3 separate regions of the Homo sapiens genome follow, and all the other regions are linked to region 1. Evidence: fine-mapped QTL for protein levels in blood plasma. A gene starts in region 1. Each other region holds a variant in brackets. All regions are shown on one strand. Distances are between the middles of the regions. Region 1 holds the start of IGFBPL1 (insulin like growth factor binding protein like 1). Region 2 overlaps IGFBPL1 (insulin like growth factor binding protein like 1). Region 3 overlaps LOC107987065 (a long non-coding RNA gene).

Evidence for each region. PIP is the chance, under the fine-mapping model, that this variant and not a neighbour inherited with it causes the effect. Protein levels are from antibody-based Olink assays in UK Biobank. Linkage for the fine-mapping came from a reference panel and not from the study's own genotypes, which makes the PIPs less certain.
Region 2: its variant is fine-mapped to the plasma level of the IGFBPL1 protein (UK Biobank, PIP above 0.99).
Region 3: its variant is fine-mapped to the plasma level of the IGFBPL1 protein (UK Biobank, PIP above 0.99).

What each region holds. Positions count from the first base shown.
Region 1 is chr9:38,419,873-38,428,051 of GRCh38, forward strand. It overlaps IGFBPL1 (insulin like growth factor binding protein like 1), which reads right to left and starts at 4,582. Exons shown (of 5, transcript NM_001007563.3): 1 at 4,093-4,582. The coding sequence starts at 4,552. LOC105376041 (a long non-coding RNA gene) reads left to right here and starts at 4,739. Exons shown (of 8, transcript XR_007061487.1): 1 at 4,739-4,878; 2 at 6,778-6,891. RefSeq lists an enhancer at 5,627-8,179.
Region 2 is chr9:38,405,389-38,413,567 of GRCh38, forward strand. IGFBPL1 (insulin like growth factor binding protein like 1) reads right to left here. Exons shown (of 5, transcript NM_001007563.3): 3 at 7,849-7,965; 4 at 6,003-6,161; 5 at 1,140-3,829. The coding sequence ends at 6,012. Among named protein-coding and RNA genes, the nearest start is that of IGFBPL1, 15 kb to the right of the region's middle. The variant G/A (reference allele first, on the strand shown) is at 3,696.
Region 3 is chr9:38,377,410-38,385,588 of GRCh38, forward strand. It overlaps LOC107987065 (a long non-coding RNA gene), which reads left to right. Exons shown (of 3, transcript XR_001746670.2): 3 at 3,551-3,796. Among named protein-coding and RNA genes, the nearest start is that of ALDH1B1, 11 kb to the right of the region's middle. RefSeq lists an enhancer at 3,394-4,342. The variant G/T (reference allele first, on the strand shown) is at 3,902.

The sequences.
Region 1 (8,179 bases):
CCTCCTCCTCCTCCTCCTCCTTCTTCTTCTTCTTTTTAGACAGGGTCTCACTCTGTCTCCTAGGCGGAGTACAGTGGCATGATCATAGCTCACTGTAGCCTCGAACTCCTGGGCTCAAGAAATCCTCCTGCCTCAGCCTCCCAAGTAGCTGGGACTACAGGCACATGCCATCATGTCCAGCTAGTTTTTAGAATTTTTTGTAGAGATGGGATCTTGCTGCGTTGCCCAGGCTATCCTTGAACTCCTGGCCTCAAGCAATCCTTCCACCTCAGCCTCCCAAAGTGCAGAATGAAGCTTCCCCCTTCGGCCTTGCACCCAAGGCTTGCAGTGGCCTACCCCAAACTACTCTGGGGTGTCATCTCCTTTCCCAACCATCCTACCAGGCCTCGGCCCTATGGGCCCACTTGCACACCCACCAAAGGGCTCCCACCTCTGAGCCTCAGTTCATGCTGTGCCTCCCCCTTGCTAGCATTGGGATTCTCTCCCCATCCTTCAAGGCTTCTCTCAGGAGCTATAGCCCAGTGCTAAATAGAGGGACAAGTGACAAACCTTGGGAAAAACAGGAAGGTGGACCCAGATTGAGAAACCCCCAAGATTCAAGGCTGGCGGGTGCACAGCACCTTACTGATCAGGTTGCTAGCGGCTAGCTGTGCAGCGCCCATCTGAAAATAGCGAGGCAGGCCAGGCATGGTGGCGCACGCCTGTAATCCCAGCACTTTGGGAGGCCGAGGCGGGCAGATCATGAGGTAGGAGATCAAGACCATCCTGACTAACACAGTGAAACCCCGTCTCTACTAAAAGTACAAAAAACAAAATTAGCCAGGCGTGGTGGTGGGCGCCTGTAGTCCCAGCTACTCTGGAGGCTGAGGCAGGAGAATGGCGTGAACCCAGGAGGTGGAGCTTGCAGTGAGCCAAGATCACACCACTGCACTCCAGCCTGGGTGACAGAGTGAGACTCTGTCTCAAAACAAAACAAAACAAAACAGCCAGGCAAACCTACACTGGAGCCCTTTCACAGCTGGGACCAGCCAGGTGGCTCCAGGGAATTTCCTTCCATGTGCCTCAGCTTTCCCTTCTATCAAATGGGAAGGAGACCTCCCCAGGACACTTGTAAAAATCATGTAAAAAGATGGGTGCAGCCCAGGGATGGTATCTCATGTCTGTAATTTCAGCACTTTGGGAGGCTGAGGTGGGAGGAGTGCTTGAGGCCAGGAGTTCAAGAACAGCCTGGGAAACACAGTAAGATCCTGTCTCTACAAAAAATTCTAAAAATCAGCTGGGCATGATGGTATGTGCCTATAGTCCCAGCTACTTGGGAGGCTGAGGCAGGAGGATTCCTTGAGCCCAGGATCACAGTGGGCTGTGATCAAGCCATTGTATTCCACCTGGGAGATACAGTGAGACCCTGTCTCAAAAAAAAAAAAAAAAAAAAAGGATGCAAAAGCAATTTCCAACAGTAAGAATTATTCATATGTGAGTCTTCCATACATGTGTGCGGATCAAAGGATCACTCTCATTATGTGGCAGTTTGGGGCATTTCAGGGCATAGGAGGAAAGGGCAGAATTTAAGCCTGAAAACTGCTTCCCCAGGCTCCTCAGAGGCATGTATAAGGGCCCTTCACACACTGTGAACAACATAATAAATACTTCCCGAGGCCTCATTCCATGAAATCTAGGTGCTTGGGTACCCAAGGAGTCAGGAGGGGTGATTTTATCATGAATATTGAAGCAGAACAGCCCTGCTCTGACTCACAGTCTGTTTTCCTTCAACCGGGATCCCCAGAGGCATTGTTAAAAAACGCTCCCGCTGTGTCTTGTGAATAAAAGATGGCTTTAGGGCAGCACAGAATGAGCTGCTGCCTGGGCTAGGAAACATCCCCTGTCCAAACCTTCATGCTTTATCTGGACACAAGGGCAGAGGCCACACTAGCACTTCAGGACAGAGAGTGACAGGCAAACAGTGCCCGGTTCTGTGGTGGATGACACAAAGGCTGGTGCGGAAGAAGGGCTGAACCCCGGGGAGGCCTGACGCCTGTCAGTAATGAGATCATGAAAACCAGTTCTGAGTTGCTTCCATGTGGCCCCACGAATATCTTTATTCCCTGGGTCTGTGCCTGGGGTGGGCCTCAGATCCCATAGATCAGAGTGAAGGGGCTGTCACATTTACTTGTCATTTGGTAATTTTCAGTGAATTAGGGGTATGGAGTTTCCATCTGCCATCTGGCCTCACTCTGGTAACCATGGTAACCACCATCTGCCTGACTTAATACTATTAAGTCCTGTGCCAAAAGAGCACTGGACAGGGTGTTGGGACCAGGGAGCTGGTCATCCTTTACTGGTCACCCTGGACAAGGGCTCTGACCTTGCTGTGTCTCAGTCTCTTTCTCTGTATAACAGCAGATTTGGTCTGAATGTCTTTAAGGTGCCTTTCTCTTAGGAAGAGAATGCCACTCTGGGGAGAAATTATCTGAGATCATCAGCAGCATTTATAGTCTGAGGACCTGGTCAGCATTTCTTCTGTCTCCTGCATGTGGAGTTAAAAGTGTTACCTGTCTGGAGACAAAGAGAATTGCCTGTGAATTAACGGCTGAGGAAAGCAGTTATAAAAACGAGTGATAGGAACTAGCAAAAGGAAAGAGACAGGACTGTTTAAGTGCCACAGGGCGGAAACCAACTGTTCCGAGTGAAAGGGACCTCAACAATGACTCCACTGGGGCTGATATGGCCAGAGAGGGGAAGGGACCCGTCCAGGGCCACTCAGGGAGCCAGCGGCAGCACAGATGCACCCCCAGCCAGCTCTGTCCTCCATGGGGAGCTTCAGCTAGGAACAGCCAATGGTGACTTTCCTGTGCTCAACTGGCCACACACTGGTTTTACATTTCCCAGGACTGGAGGCTTCCTGCCCCATCTCCAACAACCCATTGCGTCTCCTGGACTTGGGTACATCTACCTGAACTACTTGAGAGGAAAGACTACTAGATACTTCTTAAGGCTTGGAAAGGTCTCACCCCACCCCAGGCTTCTTTCTTGAAGCTAAGTCATTACACTGACTTAGGCACTAAAGTCTGGACTTGGTCTCTGGGCTCAGGCCAGAATTATTTCCCAGAAGCCTGAACTCCAGGCCGAAACCCAGGCTCCTTGGGACTCACTGGCCACCTTCTCACTCACCCTAAACTCAGCACTGCCCACTCCAGGCAAAGTACACAGCGGCACTTCAAAACCTAGTGGGTGGAATACACTCATGCTTAGGAAGCCGGTAAAGCAGTGCTAACGTTTTGGTTTCTTTTTGTTTGGTTTTCAAAAGGTACATAAAGAGGGTGGGCAACTATAGCACTCAGAGATTATTTTACTGTGATGTTAATGAAGCTTAAGTTTCTAAGTCCCTAGCATTTCATAATAAGTTTCTAAGTCCCTAGCAGTTCTATTCCTTTACTTAAGGCAGGACTCTCCAAATTATATATGTTTTAGAAGCACGAAACCTGAGTCTGCCCCTAATAGCACCACAATCTTTTCAGACCTTACGTCTCCAAAGGTCTTACTTCTCCTGGATGGAGCTCCCTCAGCATCCCAGCTCAGCCCCTTCCCACACCGGGGGCCCTGGTGCTCTGGTGCTGTGGCCTGGTGACTACTGATTCCCCAGTCTGGAACTCATCCTCCTCCTGCATCCTCAACTTCCCTTCCTCCCCTATCCTCTACTTCCCTTCCTCCCCCAACCTCAACTTCCCTTCCTCCCCATTCAAACAATCCACCTAGCGCTGGATACCTGGGAACTCGGATCCCCCTCCTTAACTCCCAGTCTCCTGCTGGGCAAACATACCATGCCTACAAATAAGTGACTGCATCAGCAGGTACTTAAGTACCAAAAGGGGTAGCAGGCTCACCAAAAATTCGACTAGCACAGTGAGTGGCGTCTCCAAGGATTCTCGCCCCAGTCTCTCTGAGCACGAGGAGAGATATGAAATACTGCTCCCTAAGGGGAAACTGAGTGCCAGGCAGCGCCGTCCACCACTGGGCAGGGGGATCCTTCGCTCCACACCCCAGAGGGTTGGAATCCCTCCTTCTCTACCCACCCAATCCCCGACCCTGACTCACCGAACTCGCAAGGGCCGTCGCGCGCCTTGTGCAGGTGACCGGGGTGCGCGCGGGGCGTGTGCCGAGCGCGCAGGCGCAGCGCGCAGACGCTGGGGTACGAGCGACCGTCGGAGCCGCAGACGGTGCCGCGCTGCGCGCACACGCAGAGCCCGGTGCCCTCGGGCGCTGCCCCAGCGGCCTGGCTCGCGCATACCAGGCCGGGGCCACAGCGCCCGCCGGCGCGGCCCCCGCAGCTCGCGCCCTCGGCTCCCAGGCAGCGGGCGCAGCAGCCGCACTCGTCGAGCGCCGAGATCCCGGGCGCCGGGCAGGGCGCAGGCGCCGGGCAGCCCTCTGGCCGGCACGGACCACACTTGGGGCGCCGGCCGCCCACGTCGCGGATCCCAAGGCTCGGGGACAGCGGCGGCAGCAGCGGCAGCAGCAGCAGAAGCAGCAGCGGCAAGAGCAGAGACAAGCGCGGCATGGCTTGCTCCGGGACAGCGGCGGCGCCTCTGCTTCGCGCTCCGCTCCGCGCCCGCCGAGCAGTCACCGCTCCCGCCCCGCGGCCGCTGATTGGCCGGGCCTGCACCGCGGGGCGCCCGCAGACCGCTGCTCCAGCCCGGGACCCGCGCGGTGCCCGCGGCCCGGGTCTCCGAGCTGGAGGGTCGCCCCGAGAGCAGCTCTCCGACCTCCGATTGGACTCTTGAGGGAACCGAGACCCAGTCGGGGCGACAACTTGCCCGAGGTCGCTATGGCAGAGTCAGGATTGGATAACCGTACGGTCTCCGGATCCAAGGCTGGCTCCAGATAGTATGCCCGTAAATCCTCCCAGAAGGATGCGCTATTTTATTTAATTTTATTTTGCATTCAGTAGTTTTCAAAGTTTTATTTTATAAAGAGAATATATGGTTTAAAATGTAGATTTTACATATACATCTAAGGATGAAAAGAGGGTTACCCTACCACCTTGTATCCCCATCCTCCAACTCGGCTTCCAGAGGCCACTCTTGCTATCGGGTTTTTGTATATCTTTTCAGAAATTTTCTCTATGCCTATAAAAGTACATGTGCCTAAAAAAGCCCCTTCCTTTAAAACACACACACTCTGTTTCTCTCTCACACACACAGAGTAGCGTGCCATACACATTAGTCTGCACTTGGTTTTTGCACTTACAGTGTTTCACAGTTTCCCCACCTCTTGTCATCTGTGAAACTGGGTTTCTTATACAATCAATGGGAGCATAGTTCATTGGCTCTGTGAGTGTGTTTCTTAATGCTGCATAAAGTCATGGTACATCTCCGTCCACAGTGACTTTGTTGTGATGAGATATGGTGATATATTTTGGAGTTCATACAGAGTGGCCTTTCCACAGGGTTTAGTTGCAGTTATTTAACCACTTATTTTCCATCCTTTGGTTAATACGAATAATGCTTTGATGAAGTCTTGGTGCACAAGGGTCAGTGTACCTGTGGCTTACTGGGGAATGCATGTTGGAAAGATGCAGTTTCTTGTAGTCAGTTATTCATGCCGCCGTTGCGCCTTCTCTGGGCCAGGCTCTGTGCACACCATCCTGCCTGAGTTCTGGCAGGGCACCCAGACGAGAAACCTAAGAGAGTCTTGGCTGCTGGGATTTGATGTGTTGCTGGGTAAATGCACTGGATGGAGGGAGGGACTCGCTGAGCAGGTTTTATAGGAGACTTTTCCTGCCTTTACTGGCCACCCCTCATGTGTCTTGTGCTCTATTGTTTTTTCTTTGCTGAACTCCTGGAGATGGAGAAAGCCTCTTGCAGCCTGGGAAGACCAGCTACACCGTTCTTGGGTGGGGTTCATTTTGCTTTTCAAGCCCAGTTCCTTCCCAGTTTGCAGTCTTCTTATCCCCAGAAAGGAGCCTCTTCTGAGGCCACTTTATGTGGTGGTCAGAGGAGGGCCATCTGCCTGGTCCACGCCAGGCCTTACCTTACAATCAGCCACACAGAGCAGGGGCGGTTAGGCACCATGAAGGGGTGGTGGTAAGGAATAAATATAACAATGTTGGTAATGCACTCAGCGCAGCTCTCAGAACCTATCAACAGTGACTTTCAACCTGGAGGCTGCTGTCTTTACCAGGAGTGGCCTTTTAAAGTGCTCTCACCGCTTGACCCCTCTGTGCTCTTCCAGGAATCTCTCCTAAAAAAATGATCACTATGTGTGAAGATTTCATCCTGGAGTTGGTTACTATAGCAAAAAATAAATAAATAAATAAAATAAAAATAAAAAAAGTTAACGACCTAAATGCCCACCGAGAGGCAATCGTTAAATAAATTATGGTACATCTAACAATAGAGGATTATGCAGGCATTAACAATTAGAAAGAAAATATGGGTTAATAGAAATGAAAACATGTTTATAATACATTGTTTAGTAAAATAGCGGTTAAAAAGTGCACATCTAATGTAATGGCATATTTGTAAATATGTGAATGTGTAAACATGCAAAAATTTAAGATTGTTTTTAATGATGTGAAGGAAACCCTTTTTTTAAAAAAAAAAAAAAAAAGAGATGGTACCTCATTCTGCTGCCCAGGTTGGAGTGCAATGTCATGATCATAGCTCACTGCAGCCTCAAACTCCTGAGCCTCAAGCCGTCCTCCCCCACTCAGCCTCCTGAGTATCTAGGACTATAGGTGAGCACCACCACGCCTGGCTAATTTAAACAATTTTTTTTTTTCAGAGATGGGGTCTCACTATGAGAAGGAAACACTTATAATGTTAAATGAACAAAGCAGGATTTGCAAACAAAAGAGATAAGCGAACTCCATGCTGCTTTTCAGGGACAACTTTGCTGGTAAGTTCAGACTTTCTAATGGTTCATAGTTGTCCAAAGAGAGATCAGGCTGCTCCAGAGATAGTGAGGTCCTTGTCAAAGAAGGAGTTTAAGAATGAGTCTTGGCAAGGAGCATGGAGGGGGTCAGAAGTAGGGGTCAGGGGAGTTGACGTTTGATTACCTCAAACTGAGCCACCATTCCTGTAGTACAGTGCCCGACCCTGAGACCTGGACTGGACAAAACATGGTCATGATTGAGAAATAAATGTGTACAGAAATGATTTGCCTGCTTTTTATGCAGACATTAAAGGAGGAGTAAGTGAACGGTGTCATAATGAAATTAATGTGTGCTTAATGCAGGTTAGGATACACAATCTCACAGAGGCGCATTTACATATGATCTACATTCCTTTTAAATGGTAGGGAGAGTACTATGTATGCATAACGACTCTTTGAGAATTAAATCAGAAGACTCATTTTCCAACACTGAGCCTGTGGCATCAAAGCCCCTGTATCTGGGTGGAGAAAACATTCCCAAGCTTTGAAGGTGATCAGTCATGTCTATTTCCTTTTAAAATTGCCTGCAAGCCCATAGCCCAGCAGAGGCATTTGTGCTCTTTCATCTCTCTGGTTCCCAGAGTACCAGTTAACACTGTGGGCCACACCTGTGGGCCCCCTAAGATGATAGGAGAAAGTAGGGACAAATTCTCCCAGTCGGGAAGGGGGGTTGAGGTGCCTCTGTTGTCTGGCAGGTGGAGAGATCCCATGCACCTGGGTAAGTAATTAGGCAACAAGAATGGGTGTGATTTTCTTCCTCTTCAGCCTCCAGCCTGAAAACAAACACAACACAGGGAAGACTAGCCAATCCCCCATTCAGAGCAGATGTGTGCCCACCCGGCAGCTGCTGAAGTGGGTATGAATGTCCCATCCATTAATTCCTCCCTTGAACGTAGAGATAAATGGCAGATATTCTCTGTCCTTGGGGAGCTTCCAGCACAGAGGAAGAGAATAGAAGCTCAGTTGAGCAAAGGCCACTCCATAAATAGGCCATGGATTTGAACCTCAAGCTTTAATAGTCAGGGCAATCATAGATAGTCTTCTCCAAGCTAAAGGAAGGTGAAAGCCCTTTCTCCAGACCTCTGGTGGGCGATTACAGAGCAGAAGGCAAGGTGAATTTCTAGAGGGAAGTTCCATAAATGACAGATGGGATTTTTAGGGAGACAGATTTCACTTCAATATTGCATGCAAGGGGATGTAGCAAGATGTAGAACTCTGCAAAGATGGGAATTCAGATACTGAGCAGACGAAA
Region 2 (8,179 bases), 14 kb before region 1:
CACGTTCTGAATTCATTAAACTGAGACACCAGAGCACCTGGCTTTCCCTTAATTAATTAAAATATCATGGAATAATCATTGTCTGATGTAATGTTCAAGAAGCCCTCGTAAAGGCTGGGAAGGAGGAAATTCATTAGCGGAGACTTTTACTGTCGCTGGATCTGCCGTTCTTATTCATTTCTCCTGCACCATCCGTCCCTGGAGGAGAGGGCAGGACAGTGTTTTTAAAGATGTTGGAATTAATTTCACCATAAAACCTGAAAGAAAAAAAAATCCACCTTAACTAAAAACTAGCCTTATTTGTGTTTAAGGGGGAAAGCAGATACATTTGGGATTGAACATGGGCTGTGGAATTGTCTTCCTCAAGCCCAGCTGACAACAGAGACAGAGATTCAGTCTGTCCACTGCTTACGGCAACAAGTTCAACCTCCTCTGTCTGCATTGAGGGGTGTTGCCCCAAACTACTACCCGCCCACCACCATAGCTCTGAGCAGCAGCAACTGGCCATTCCTCCCTGTTCACAAACTACACTGCATTTTTCTACCCCGACTCCTTTTTGCATGCTGTTTCCTTAGCCTGGAATCCCCCACACCCACTCCTGCCAGTTCAAATGCCTGCCTCCTCTTCTGGGAAGTCTTCCTTGATCTCCCTCTGCTCTAACCACAAAGCAGACACCATATGCTGCCAGGGATGGTGACCTCATCCCACCCATGTCTCCACTGGAGTCTGAGTTCAGGACCTGATTCTACCTACTTTCATATGGGAGGAATCCAGATGATTCCAAACATATGACTTTCGGCATCTTGTACCTGTCTGGCACCTGGAGAATGCTACTGTGTGTGTGGGAGGGGACAGAGCACTATCTCAGCAAGTGAATTAAGTACTAGAATGCGTACACGGCAGGACACACATAGTCAAGGGCAGTAGTGTAAGATGATTAGGGCTGGTTAAAAATTTCGGGCAAGGTGAACGGTGGGGCTGCGATCGCAACCAGGCGTGGGAGGTAAGGAGGATCTAGACTAAGTAGCTGAAGTGGGCATGCAGAAGGAAGGACAGGAGGCATGAGGGATGATAAAGGAATACCAGTGGGACCTGCACCCACCTATACAGCATTCCTACAACAAAGACACCACAAAGACTGTCCTTAAAAACATTTATTTTTTTCAGGGTGCAGGGGTCGTGACATCATGACATCTACAAAAACGGTAGAAAAACCCAGGTTTGGTGCGGGGAGTGGGGGCATTGTAATTACGTCTCCAAATGCTAACAGCTGTGGCAGCGCATGCTCTCTTAGCCTCTGAAGAGGTCTCTGGGCGCTCACACTTGAAAAACCATGAGGTTGGAACAATCATGTTAATGCGCCTTTTTGGTTTTGGTGAAAATTTCAGACAGTGTGACATTAATTATTTGTCTTTGCACAGAATGATGATGCTAAAGCCAGCCCCATACAGTCCTGATGCTCAGTACTTCCAGCATGGGCTCTGTCCACCCTGCTCTCTGGGTCTACATCCAGCCCTTCAGTTTTCACTAGGCAAATCTGAGGTGAGTCAACTGAGTTTGCAAAATGTGCTTATTAGCAGGTGTGGGATGTTCTACTACCTTCTTCAGAGCCACAGCATTCCTGTTCCTTCCCACATCATTTCACTAAGGGTCTGACCAACTCATCTCCCAACCATTCAAGACACAGGAGAATTAACTGCAGGCCTTCACACATGGAAGTCAGTCACAGTGCGTGGAGAAGGGAGGGGCGGGAGGGGCTGAGTGAGGAGTGGATGTGAGCAGGTCCCCTGGCAGCTCCAAACCCCAGTAGACAAGAACAGCTTCCAGTGCCATCCATTTCAATTCTCATCTTTTGTTTTCAAAGAGAGCTTCCAGTGTTTTAAAGTTTGAAAACCACTCATCTAGTTTTATTCCCTTTTTACTCAAATAAGGACACTGAGGCACAGAAAGTGAAGGAGACTTGCTCAGGGTCACACAGCGAGCCGGGGATTAATATGCAAATGGATCTCATGTTTCCAGAATCCCAGGCCAGTCTCCTTCTGCTGCATAGTACAGAAGGTGATGCCATCCCAATATATTAGACATGGAATGGCAGGCTTACAGGCGGAAAGTTCACTTCCAACAAGGACTCCAAAATGTAATGCACAATGTGAGCGGTGTGAAAGTGTGCCTTAAAAGTTGGGATGAGTCTTGATAAGAGTCCCTGAAGCCTGTGGATTGGCAACATCTGCCTTTACATAGTTTTGAGATGACCCTGAGTAGCAGCACCGTGGAGTAGAGAGGGGACCAAGGAGGGCCAGGTGCCCTGAGCTCTGCTCCTCTTTCAGAGGCCTTCAGGCCTTGGGCAAGTAGCTTCTCCTCTCAGAGCCTGGTTTCTTCATCTGCTAAAGGCAGGGACATTAACACCTGTCCTGCCCCATCTCCCAGAGTTGGGATCAAGCTTTATGAACTTAAAGGACTGTGCATAGTAAGGGCTCTCAATTCTTATTTTAAAATTGTAATCACCTAAGGATCTATTTTTTTAAGATAAGATAGCAAATATTCTCCTTTCTTTTTTCATTAAAAAAGAAAAAAAAGAGAGCCTTACTCTTGGGTGAGGTCAAAATGTTTGTAGGTAAAATATATTCTACTACAATCTAATTCCACAGTCTGGAGATAACACCTGACCCCTTTTTTTACAATTTGATCGTCAGAAGCCTGGTATCCACCGCTTCTAACCACCTGTTTAGAGAATGCTAGGCTAGGCCAAGCACAGTGGCTGATGCCTATAATCCCAGCACTTTGGGAGGCCAAGGCAGGAGGATCATTTGAGCATAGGAATTTGAGACCAGCCTGGGCGGCAACATAGGGAGACCCTGTCTCTACAAAAAAAAAAAAAAAAAAAAAAAAAATAGCTGGGTGTGGTGGGGCATGCCTGTGGTCCCAGCTACTCAGGAGGCTGAGGTGGAACGATCACTCGAGCCCAGAAAGTGGAGGTTGCAGTGAGCCATGATCACGCCACTGCACTCCAGCCTGGGTGATAGAGCGAGACCCTGTCTCAAAATAAAATTTTAAAAAAGAGAATGCTAGGCTAACAAATGGATGCTCTGGTCTCCAAAGACCCAGCCAAGGCGCTCCTGAGTCTGGTAAAGCATCCCACCTAAAACTAAATCTCCTTCAAAGGGAAAAAGTTAGGAATAGAAGAGCTACAGCCAGCTGTCCACACGTTGGGGTAAAGCAATGGAATTTGTTTCTGAGGGAATACCATTTTAGAAAGAACACTAAGACCACACTTCCTGTTATTTTCCCAAAAGGCCATCTTAATCTAGGATGGCAGGGCTAAAAGGGACATTGATAACATCCAGTTAAAATGCCATACTCACAGATGAAGGGACCAGGGCCCAGAGAGGGGAAGGGATCTGTTCAGGTCACACAGCAAGTTACAGTCAGGCAGAGGACAGCTGGGACCCTCATCCCTCCTTCTACAACACACACTAAGTCACAGAGCACCACTAATAGGTCATAGACAAATGAGGTAAAGAGTCACAGCTGACACGAGCCCTTTCGAAATTGCAAACATGCCGTTCTGTGATCTCCCTGGAAGAGAATAATTACAAAAAGACTTCTCATGGAACAATTCATTTCAAAAGTATAAAAAAGCCACATGCAAATCCGTTTCTCACTGTTTGCCCTGCTAAAAACTACATCTGCATACA[G/A]ATCTAGTTTGCATCTAATTTTTAAAAACACACAAAAGGGGTCATCTACACACACAGGTTTTCCAACTCTTCATGAAGCACAAAGATCCGTTATTTGACTTTTCCATCATCCCATGATCAATGTTTCTAAGACCCTAGGAAGAAAAGGAGAGAAAGAATTAGAGAACGTAAGCCTGCTCCGTTACAATCAACTATGTGTTACATGGAAGGTGGGGGAAATGATCCTTCACTTCGAATCTCTCCCCAGCAGGAAATGGTGCCAGTGGAGAGTGAAGGGCCCTGTGGAGTCCCAAGAAGTACTTTTAAGACCAAAAGGTGGACGTTTCAAAGCAGCAGACTCCAGCTTAATAAGATCTTTTCAACCATTGGAAAATCCACAGATGGCTCTCAGTGGTAGTGAGCTCTGTATCCCTGGAGGTATGTAAGCCAGAGCTGGCAATACTGTGTGTCACAGAAGGAACTCAAGACCTAGGCAGCAGTGATGCTCTTAAAATTCCACAATTTTTCATGGTATCCTTTTGATGTATTCACAACCCAGAATCATTTCTGCCTCAAAATATACGTGTATTTGAAAATTATAGATATATATATTTAAAACTGGAAACATATCTATATAAAACAAGTCACATATCATCAGGAAGACAATTTTAAGACCCAATCTCCTAACTCTTTGTTGAATTCCTATTTCACAGTTTTACATTTTCATATTTTTCTCCCCATTTCTAGGGCCTCTAACTACTCACGTACACCCATCCTTCAATCCTCATGCCACCTCCTCGATGATTCTTCCTTCATTTTCCCCAGTTCTAAGCTGCTTTTCATGCCTTAATATCTCCTCCCATTCCCTTACATCGCACTCCTTGTATTATAATTATGTCCACTTTTTGTTTTTCTGTGATCCCCTACAGACCAGAAGTAAGGCCTTGCACACAGAAGGTGTGCAACAGTAGTGGCTGAAAGAATAATATAACTAAAACCATGGCAAAATCCCCCTGCTTTTGAGAAACCCTATCAGACTTGTTTCTAATTTTTCCTGTTCTATTAAGCACCTGTTGATCAGCCTTGGTAATGGTGCCTGTTCACCACTGCTCCCCCATTCCTGTAAGAGGATCGTGCAGGCCAGGCACGGTGGCTCACGCCTGTAATCCCAGTACTTTGGGATGCCAAGGCGGGCGGATCATGAAGTCGGGAGATCAAGACCATCCTGGCTAACACGGTGAAACCCCGTCTCTACTAAAAATACAAAAAAATTAGCCAGGTGTGGTGGCGGGTGCCTGTAGTCCCAGCTACTCGGGAGGCTGAGGCAGGAGAGTGGCGTGAACCCAGGAGGCAGAGCTTGCAGTGAGCCGAGATCGCACCACTGCACTCCAGCCTGGGTGACAGAGTGAGACTCTGTCTCAAAAAAAAAAAAAAAAAATGATTGGTCTGTAAATGGGCGGGGCACACATCACATCCGAGCAGAAACTTTAAATGCAATGGTGTGTGCAGCCTGGCCACAGAACGGACATGTTCCACACTGGAGCTGTTCCTCCAGCTGGGTCCTGAATGAGGGGACACATGGGGCAGGGCCACAGCCAGCTCACAGCTATAACATGGAACATGAGCAAGTGATCAACGTCTGTGGCTGTGAACCAGCAAGATTTTGGGATTTTTATGAGCAAAAGCTGGCTTATAAAGTGATCCCTTTCCCGAATTCCCAGTTCACCTGTAGGCAAGGAACAGATGCAACCCCAGCTGTCACCTGTGTGACTACAGACTAGGAGGCCTTGACCAGAGGGGATGCAGAGATTCTCTCTGCCCCTACCCACAAGGAGATGTGTTGCAAAGCAGCACACAGTGCTGAGGACAGGAAGGCAAGGCCTGAGCCCCAGGAAGGAAGCTCAGGTGTCCTGAACAAGGAAGAGCTCCAGGAACACACAAAGGAAGCTCAGGCATCTTCTTTGTGGGAACATTTTCACATGGACGCTGTCACAATGACACTGTCTGCTACCTCTCTCAGTGCTCTTTCTAGAAGAATACAGAGGAAATATTCCCTCCAGCCCCAAAACACAACTGGTCTTTTCATCTCATGGACACACATCATGTTCACAGCTCTTGTCTTTGCATGCTAAGAAGCTCAGAGGGAGATGTGTGCAGAATATACCAGGGATTCTACTGCTCATCTAAGTATGTCCCTACTCTTCTTTTGCTCTTTCCCTGGTTTCCTCCATTTACGTATTTTTCTTCTTTTTTTTACAGGTCTTATAAGCCACCTCAAATATCTCATAACATGGGTGTAAAATACTGAAAATGACTTAGAACATGTACATTTCTCCATCACATGCGGTCATCGGGAGCTGGGAAGTGGAAGCTCCTGTATTTACTCAGATCTAGAACCGTCACTGTGCTGTGGGACTCAGCCTCTCCCACCATGTTGGCTGCATGGCACTGGTACACACCCTCATCCTCCTTTCGCAGGGGGTTGATCTAGAAATACAACAGGCAAGTTTATACAGTTATATAAGGAACAGCAAAATGACTTCCTTAGTTAGTTCTTAATGATAAGTCTGCACACTTCCTCCTTTTCAGAATAAGGTAAAACTTGCTCTATTTCTCTCCTTGCATTGGCTGCCAAGGAGCACGCAGGTAAATTTCCTTCCCAGGGACCCTCTTGAAAGGCACGCTCCCTATTGTGGCTCTCATCTGAATGATTCCTCCGCACACCTGCCTTTTACTGTGAGCTACCTGGTCTTTTGTATTAAAGGTGCAAGGTATAGGTTATTTGGAAAACACCTCAAGTTAAAAGAAGAACAAAAATCTACTGACCAAAGAATGATCCAGAAAGTATTCCCTATAGGGGCAGCCTCTACAAAATACCACCAGAGATAACCTCTTTTCCCTGTCTTTTCTCCTAAGAAAATAGAGGAATGTGCTTGATTTGAAAAAACCGCACAGCCAATTGCATTCCCAATCTCTCAGCTGGGTGGAGAAGAGTCACCAAGCCTCCCAGAGCTGTGGGTGGAATGAGGAGGTTGTCCTTAGGGAGCACCCCAAGGATGTTCACAGCCAGGTCCATAACCAGCTCGCGTCTTTTTTGCTTTCTCGTTACAACCAACCGCTTCCATCAATTACAAATCATCCTACCGACCACGCGCTGGTGTACGCACATCAGCTCGTTTTAAACTCATGCCAGTCGTGGGGGAAGGGTGAGCATTATGGTCTTCTTTTTACAGGAGACTCACAGGTAAATCACAGACTGCCAGGGCCACAAAGGCCCTCAGAGGTCTTTCAGTTTGAAGCCCTCTTTCAACAACAGTGGAAATGGAGGCTCAGAAGGGTACAGTGACGACCCAACATGGACCCCTATCTCCTCATTCCATCACTCTTTCAAACATGTGGCATTCTTCATCTTGGTAAAAGTGCTGCGAGTGGCAGGAAAGAGCTCTGGAGGAGGACTCGAATGTGCCACCTTCTACCTTTACCAGCGGGTGACCTTAGGCAGGTGTACTAGTTCCTTGGGCTGCTGTAACAAATCGCCACAAGCTGAGTGCCTTAAAACAAACACATTTCTTTTCTACAGTTTTGGAGGTCAGAGGCCCAAAGGGGGCTAAGATCAAGGTGCCGGCAGGGCTGCATTCTTTCTGAAGGCTCTCAGGAGACTCATTTTCTTGCCTTCTCCAGTTCCTAGTGGATGCTGGCACTCCTTGGCTGTGGCCCTTTCCAACATCATCAAAGCCAGAAATGGTGGGTCAAGTCCTCCTCACATCGAATCACTTCAGTCTGCCTCTGACTCTTCTGTTTCCCTCTTCCACACTTAAAGACCCACCTTTAAATTGGCCCACCCGGATAATCCAGGCTAATCTCCTTATCTTAAATCTCCTTATCTCAGCTGTTTAGCAACCACAACCTCCCTCCCACCACCTTGCCATGTAACATCGTACGGTTCTGGGGGTGAGGACGTGGTGGACATCACTGTGGGGCCATCACTCTGCCCCTGGCAGCAGAACACGTATGTTCCCAGCAGATCTGAAACCTGCCCTGCCTGCCTCACAGTTACTGGAGGGGCCAGTGAGAAATGGGTAAGAACAGCTTTGAAACATGTAATGTGTTGTAGAAATATAAAGGATGGTTTATAATGGTCAGTCAATAATATCCAATAATCCTAAACACTCACCAAAATCCAGGCCGTGGCCTCATGGTCAGAAGGGCCCCCTCGCACTTGGACAGCTATATTGACATGGTCCCCAGGCAGCTCCTCCAGTGCTTGGGTGCCCTCAGGGGACTTCGTGACCTACAGGGGACAGGAATGCCAGGAGGGGGCTTAGAAAAAGCAATTCTGGATAAAGACCATCCCATAGGCTTCCTTGCCCTCCTCCTTCCTCCTCCTCCCACTGACTCAAAAACGGAAACCCTAGCACTGCTCATGCCTATGCAAATGACATCAGTCATTTTTTAAACCTACTTGTACATATAGACAGCACGCTCTGCCAGACAGCAAAGACCCG
Region 3 (8,179 bases), 42 kb before region 1:
TGCTGGCAGCCCTCACAGCCCTCACTCGCTCTGGGCGCCTCCTCGGCCTTGGCGCCCACTCTGGCCGCCCTTGAGGAGCCCTTCAGCCCGCCGCTGCACCGTGGGAGCCCCCTTCTGGGCTGGCCAAGGCCAGAGCCGGCTCCCTCAGCTTGCAGGGAGGTGTGGAGGAAGAGGCGCGGGTGAGAACCGGGGCTGCGTGCTGCGCGCTTGCGGGCCAGCGGGAGTTCCGGGTGGGCGTGGGCTCGGCGGGCCCCGCACTCGGAGGCCCCGTGGCCCGCAAGCCCCGGGCAGTGAGGGGCTTAGCACCTGGGCCAGCAGCTGCGCTCGACTTCTCGCCTGGCCTTAGCTGCCTCCCCTCGGGGCAGGGCTGTGGACCTGCAGCCCACCATGCGTGAGCCTCCTCCACCCCTCCATGGGCTCCTGCGCAGCCGGAGCCTCCCTGACGAGCAACGCCCCCTGCTCCACAGCGCCCAGTCCCATCGACCACCCAAGGGCTGAGGAGTGCGGGCGCACGGCTGGGACTGGCAGGCAGCTCCACCTGCGGCACCAGTATGAGTGGGATCCACTGGGTGAAGCCAACTGGGCTCCTGAGTCTGGTGGGGACTTGGAGAACATTTATGTCTAGCTAAGGGATTGTAAATACACCAATCGGCACTCTGTATCTAGCTCAAGGTTTGTAAACACACCAATCAGCACCCTGTGTCTAGCTCAGGGTTTGTGAATGCACCAATTGACACTCTGTATCTAGCTACTCTGGTGGGGACTTGGAGAACCTTCGTGTGGACACTCTGTATCTAGCTAATCTAGTGGGGAGGTGGAGAACTTTTGTGTCTAGCTCAGAGATTGTAAAGGCACCAATCAGCACCCTGTCAAAACGGACCAAGCAGCTTTCTGTAAAATGGACCAATCGGCTCTCTGTAAAATGGACCAATCAGCAGGATGTGGGTGGGGCCAGATAAGAGAATAAAACCAGGCTGCCCGGGCCCACAGTGGCAACTGGCTCGGGTCTTCTTCCATGGTGTGGGTTCCTTGTTCTTTTGCTTTTTGCAATACGTCTTGCTGTTACTCACTCTGGGTCCACACTGCCTTTATGAGCTGTAACACTCACCGCAAAAGTCTGTAGCTTCACTCCTGAAGCCAGTGAGACCACGAACCCAGCAGGAGGAATGAACAACTCCAGAGGCGCTGCCTTAAAAGCTGTAACACTCACTGCGAAGGTCTGCAGCTTCACTCTTGATCCAGCGAGACCACGAACCCACCAAAAGGAAGAAACTCCGAACACATCCGAATGTCAGAAGGAACAAACTCCGGACACGCCACTTTTAAAAACTAACACTCACCGTGAGGGTCCACGGCTTCATTCTTGAAGTCAGTGAGCAAAGAACCCACCAATTCCGGGCACACCACCGCTACATCTACCATATGCTGTTGGTCACACAGACCATCCCTGATACAGTGTGGGAGGGAACCCCACAATGCAGGCAGCTGGGAATACCAGGAGGCAGGGTTCACTGGGAACCATTTGGAGGCTGGCTACAACATTCTTTAAAAAAAAATTTTACTTAGACCAAACTGATATCAACCAACGTGTTTTTGGCCCAATGGCCTTCAGTTAGATCACAGATGGTTATGTGGAACCTGAATGGAGACATTCAGGTCCAACAGTGTCAGTTTCTGGTGAGGGCTGTCTTCCTCGTTTTCAGATGACTGCCTTCTCCCTTTCTTGCTGTGTCCTCACAAAGTAGAAGAAGAGATGGGAGAGAGAGAAGGAAGGGGGGTGGGGAGAAAAGGGAGGGGGAAATTTGACACAGAAGAAGGAGGTGACAATGTAACACTAGCAAGACGAGAGGGGAAGGAGCTATGAAATAAGGAATCCAAGAAAAACAGCTTTAGAAATTGAGAAAGGCAAGGAAATGTCTTCTCTCCTGGAGCCTCAGAAAGGAGCAGGGCCCTGCTGATGCCTTGAATTTGGCCCAGTGAAACTGATTTCACACTTCTGACTTCTAGAACTGCAAGAGATTGGTTGTGTGTGGGGGGTGGGGGGGAGGGGTTGGTTTTTGGTTTTTGTTTTTGAGTCAAGAGTATCACTCTGTTGCCTAGGCTGGAGTGCAGTGGCTCGATCTTGGCTCACTGCAACCTCTGCCTCCCGGGTTCAGGCAATTCTCCTGACTCAGCCTCCTGAGTAGCTGGGACTACAGGCGTGCACCACCACGCCTGGCTAATTTTTGTATTTTTAGTAGAGATGAGGTTTCCCCATGTTGGCCTGGCTGGTCTCAAACTTCTGGCCCCAAGTGATCCACCTGCCTCCACCTCCCAAAGTGCTGGGATTGCAGGTGTGAGCCACTGCACCTTTCCTTGGACGTGTGTGTTTTGAACTGGAAATTTGTAGCAATTGTTACAGCAACAATAGCAAAGGAATACCCTGCATCATATCCATTTGGTACCATCAGGAGAGTTTAGAGCAGGAAAGAAAGCACACCTGTGGTCCCAGAGCTGCATGTACTAGAGGTTTCAGGCTCACAGAAGATGATGTTAAGGGGAGCAGATACTTTTTGCAGGGTAATGAGTTGCACTGATTTCCAGCATGCTCAGGTGAGGCCTAGTGGAGTCAGACCTCCCGGGGTAGAATCCACCACTCACTGGCCATGTAACCTTGAGCAAATTCTGCAACCCCATCGTCTCAACGCTGGCTACATATTAGAATCACCTGGAGCACCTCAAATTATACCCATGGCTAAGGCCTACCCTGAGAATTCAAGTTGGCCTCAGGAGAGGGGCTTAGGCACCAGTACTTTTTATTTTAATCTTGTTTTTAATGGACCTTCAAGAATCAGACCAGAATCAGTACTTATTAATATAAGGCCCCAGATGATTCTAATATGTAGCCAGCACCAAGCACCACCCCTATCTCTCTAAATCTGTTTCCTCCTCTAAAATAGAAATCAGTGTTAGGTTACCCCACGTGGGTGTGATGAGCCTCAAGTAAGGTAATCCCTGTAAAGTGAGTAGGACATAGTAAACCACCAATTCATTACTGTGACTCACGACTGACTCCCTGTGGATGTGCAGTGGTCCTTTTCCCTCTTGGGTCTCAGTATCCCCACCTGTACCTGGATCATCTTTCAGTGCCTCCTGCTATATCCCCTCTTATGAATAGAAAGATTCAGTAGATCACTTACTCAGTGACCTTTTCAGGTGCACTAAAACCAAGCATTTCACACCTTAGGGAGACACAAGGCAGGATCTAATCAGAACTCTGCATCCCTCGGGCTTGGTTTAGGGATTCTAGTGCCACATTCAAAGCACAGAACAGGCGCCTGGGCCAATGTCACCTTGGTAAGTGTCTGCCTCCCAGCGTGCCTTAAGGTTGCAGGAAATTGCCTATTTACACGTATTCTGCTCTGACAGGCACACCAGAATTTTAAAATCCTCCTTCAGGTTTCTCACAGATAAGATGGGGAACTTTGTTTACTATGGATTCCAGGGCTTCCTGAAGAGGAGGCCTTTGAGTTTTCGAAAATAATTGCTTTTCCTCTCCTGTGCTCTCCAGGGGTGGTCTTTGGCCGGAGGAAGAAATGGCTTTGTTGCTCAGGAGAGCTTTGGGAATGGAACTCAGGGGCTTCCAAAGAGCAGCAATCAGGAAAACAAGCAGGGAGGATCCAGGTTTTGCAAGGCCTGAAGCCTGCACACTAGGGAGCCCCATGCTCTGTGAAGGAGAGAACAGTGATAAGAAGAAGATAATGATTCAGCAGCTTTGCAAACATTGTTTGGTGAATAAACAGCCCCGTTCAGTGCACCGGTTTCTTCCTCCCATCATGGGACAGGTGGAATGTGATCTGAGATGCCAGCCTTGGTCAGCTGGAGGGTTGTTCAGCTGCCTCGTGACTCCTCCTCGGTAAGA[G/T]TGAAAGAGCCTTTCATTCCCTAAATAAACATGTCTATTAGAGGCATTGATCTGTCCCCAGCAGGCAGTAATTGCACCTCAAATGCCACAGATGCACAGCCTGGGGTTCTACTCCACCCCGCCCTGCCCTGCCCTGCCAGTCTCCCTGCCTGGCCTGGGACGGACCCTGACCCTCCTTGGGGTTCAGGCTCTTCTTCTGTACAGAGTCACAAGGCTGTTAATTCATATTCTTCCCATCACAGGGATGAACCCCTCTGGCTCAGTCATAAATGATAATATAAGACTCGTTTTCCATGGAAAAGCCCTAGTACAGCCATACGGGTACTTTAATACAAAATGCTCACCTACCAGTTTGTAAGCAGCCCCTCTCTGAGCCCCTAGGTGCCACCTCCACTCTGTCCTCACGGCCCTTGGCCTGGGACCCCCTGAACTTCCGCATGACTCACCATGGCCAACCAGATCACAAGGGTTAGGGTTAGGGTGAGCACAGAATTACAGCCAGGCTTTGTGCCCATGCTCCATTCCTCAGTATATCAAATCTCACCCCTGGGCCTGGGCTGGGGCCCCTGCACAGGCTCCAGCCCTTCTTAGCCTAGAGAGAGGCTTCTTGAGGAGATTCTCCCATCCTTTAACAGCAGAATCCAGCCTGCCTGGATTCACTGAACAGGAGTGCAGCTGGGAGTGGAGCCATTTCTGAGCCGGTGAGCCCTGATCTGTCTGCTTCTACCTTCATTTCTAACAGGTATTTCTGGCCCAAGAAGTTGGGCCTGGGAGGACAGACCCAGCCCAACCATCCTCCTGTGAAGGACCCTTCGTGACGGGGTGGAGGCCACACTCTCTGGCTCCTGCTCCTGATCACTTTCCTTCCCGTTCCTCATGAACATGTCCAGGCATCAGCCCAGGGGCAGATCTAGGAAAGCCTGGAGCCACCGGGCCCCTTGGAGCTTCCTCAGGGGCCACCAGAGGGTGGGGGCCCGGTAAGCAGCTCCCTTGCACCTGGCTTAGTCTGTAATCTAGTGCAATCCCTTCACCGTGAGGATAATTGGGCCCAGAGGGCTCATGGTGAGTCAGACAGCCTGGGGTCCAGTCCCCAGCTGGGGGCTTTGCCCACAGCACCTTGTGCCCTCTCTCCTTTGTGGGTCTATCCTCGTCCTCACACACGTTGTCTCTCTGTTCCAGGGAAGGAGTATTCCATGGCCCATAATCCGTGTGAACAGATAGACAACGGGAAGCATCTTTGTTATTCCAACACTGGGGCAATTTCTTTCACCAACCCGTAGCAGAGGCCTTAATGAGGCTTCAGTCTAGCTGAAAAGGTTGTCCAAACCCCACACGTAGCACCAGGTGAGCCATAACTAAGACTGGACTATATGTGGGCTCTCACTTTGGACCCTATCCAGACCTTCCCACTCACTCCCTGTGGGATCTACAGAAGTCTTTCCCTTCTCTGGACCTTAGTCTCCTCATCTATACAATGGTGATGTTGGACCAGAAATTCTAAGGACCCCCTTTCTCCTGATCTGTTCCTGATTCTATAAGGCCAGGGGTGGGAACAACCATCCTGGAATCCTCTCAGGAAAAAGCTGCTCAGGCAGGGTGCAGTGGCTCACGCACTTTGGGAGGCTGAGGCGGGCAGATCATTTGAGGTCAGGAGTTTGAAACCAGCCTGGCCAACATGGCGAAACCCCGTCTCTACTAAAAATACAAAAATTAGCTGGGCATGGTGGCATGCATGTGTAATCCCAGCTACTTGGGAGGCTGAGGCACGAGAACACTTGAACCCAGGAGGCGGAGGCCACAGTGAACCGAGATGGTGCCACTTCACTCCAGCCTGGGTGACAGAGCAACACTCTGTCTCAAAAATAAAAAAGAAAGGGCTGCTCTTCCTTGATGACTCACTGAGGTACACCTATGGTGGGACCTTTAGAATCAGATTTGGAGAGGGGAGACAGTGCAAAGTCAGTCACCTCCACTAGCTTGCCTAGTGCTTTTAAGAGTGTGGCATTCCAATCCATCACATTCCTGGAAAATAGTCAACCCTCTGCAAAAATAATTTGTGCATTTTACCTTCAGCTACTGCACGTTGGTTCTTCTCTCCAAACCATAAATGTCAAGCACTGTGGAAGGTTTTCTTTTTATTACTTTTTATTTTTGAGGGGGTAAATACCTTGCAACAGGACCACTTTGGTGAGTTCTGATGCCAGTCACAGCTTAGAAAGTGTCAAGGTAGTCATGCTGGATAGAATCTAGACACAACACATTTGCAGGCGAAGTCACTTTCTGGAAATAACCATGACGGAGTCAAAGACTCCTCAGAAACCACTTAGGCCAGTGCTTCCCAAATATGGTTATATATCAGAAGCATATGAGAAACTTGGCCAGGTGCAGTGGCTCATGCCTGTAATTCCAGCACTTTGGGAGGCTGAGCGGGGTGAATCACTTGAGGTCAGGAATTTGAGACCAGCCTGGTCAACATGGTGAAACCCCGTCTCTACTAAAAATACAAAAATTAGCCGGGCGTGGTGGCATGCGCCTGTAGTCCCAGCTACTCAGGAGGCTGAGGCAGGAGAATTGCTTGAATTGGGGAGGCAGGGGTTGCTCTTCCTTGACGACTCACTGAGGCACACCTATGGGGGGACCTTTAGAATCAGATTATCAGATTTGGAGAGGGGAGACAGTGCAAAGTCAGTCACCTCCACTAGCTTGCCTAGTGCTTTTATGAGTGTGGAATTCCAAGCCAAGCTTTGCAATTGCAGATGCACCACTTACCAGTGAGTAATTTTCTCTTTCTGAACCTCAGTGTCCTTATCTGTCAACCAGAGCCAGTAATCTTTTCCTCATAGCAGAGTTGGAGGGGTCTGTGACAGAACCTCCTAGTTAGCCCCCAGTGTCTCTCTTCCCACCAAGCCACAGAAATGAAAGCCCCAATATTCTGACCACCCTAAAGACTCTATTTCCCAGCATGCCTTGCAGATAGTTGTACCATGTAGGTAAGTTCTGGCCAATGGGATATAAATGGAGTTGTTTGGGGGTTAGCTTTGGGGAGCCTTCCTCTAAAGCCAGAGGCATGCACACTTTGCCCTTTTGTCTTCTTCATTCCCACCCGCCTTCTGATCCCTAGAATGTAGATGTGGTGGCTGCCATTTGGGATCATGAAGACAGTTTCCCCTGCTAGGGGTGACCAGTGGGAATTGGAAGGGGTCCACCTCCTTGAGCATCATTGAGCCACCTCCCTCACCTGCTTCCCTCTGGGCTTCCTTTACTTTTTTAGAGAAATCAACTCCCATCTTATGTAAGCCATTTTTATACGAGTCTCTGTTACTCAGAGCTGAACTTACTCCTCACTCACTGCCATAGGATCTGAGGAAATCAAGTGGTTCTCATCTAACCAAGTCACCCTTATGCCTTAAATCCCTCTGATACTGACAGGAGGCAGCCAAATGCCTAGGCAGATAGGAGTGGTCCCCAGTGAAATCCCACCTCCAAGCCAAAGACAGTTCAAAGCCTAAAAGCCAAGCTACAAGTTAGATCCTTGGACCAGACTGAGAACCTGTCTTCCCATTTGGCACACCTTCCTCTGACTGATCACACCCTTCACCTATTTTACACAAGCCTACCCTTTTCTAATTGGTTTTCTACACTCTCATGCCCTCCTTTGGGTGGTGTCTTCGCTTTAACCTTTTTTGCATGCTCACAAACCAATTAACACGCATTCCCCATTCTGAGTCCATAAAAAGCCCCAGACCCAGCCACACTGAGGAGAGAAACCACCCAGCTGCAGGGCTGGGGGACCAATTCCCACATCCCCTCTCTGCTGACAGCTGTTCTATTGTTCAATAAAATTCTTCTCTGCCCATCCTCACCCTTCTACTGTCAGCATGTCCTCATTCTTCTTGGATGTGAGACAAGAGCTCAAGAACTGCTGAACACAGGTACAAGCTATAACACAGGTGGGACAAGTGGGTAGGGTGTCTCTAACGGCAGGCCTGGGACCCAGAGAGGCCCAGGCAAGGGGGACATCGCTGACCAGAGGTCCCAGCTGGCAAAGTGACTGAGAAGCATCCTGTGTCACTTCTGTGCCTCCTCAGGATACATCCAAACTCCTTAGCAAGGCACTTCAGGCCTTTCATGATCTTGGCATGATCTATGGCTCCAGACTTGGCTCTCAATGGCCCCCACTTATCCCATCACAGCCCAGGCACCAGCCAGGAGGAGGTTCTTACTGCACCCAAAGCCACAGGGCTCCCTCTCATTTCTGACCTTTGGCACATGCAGCTC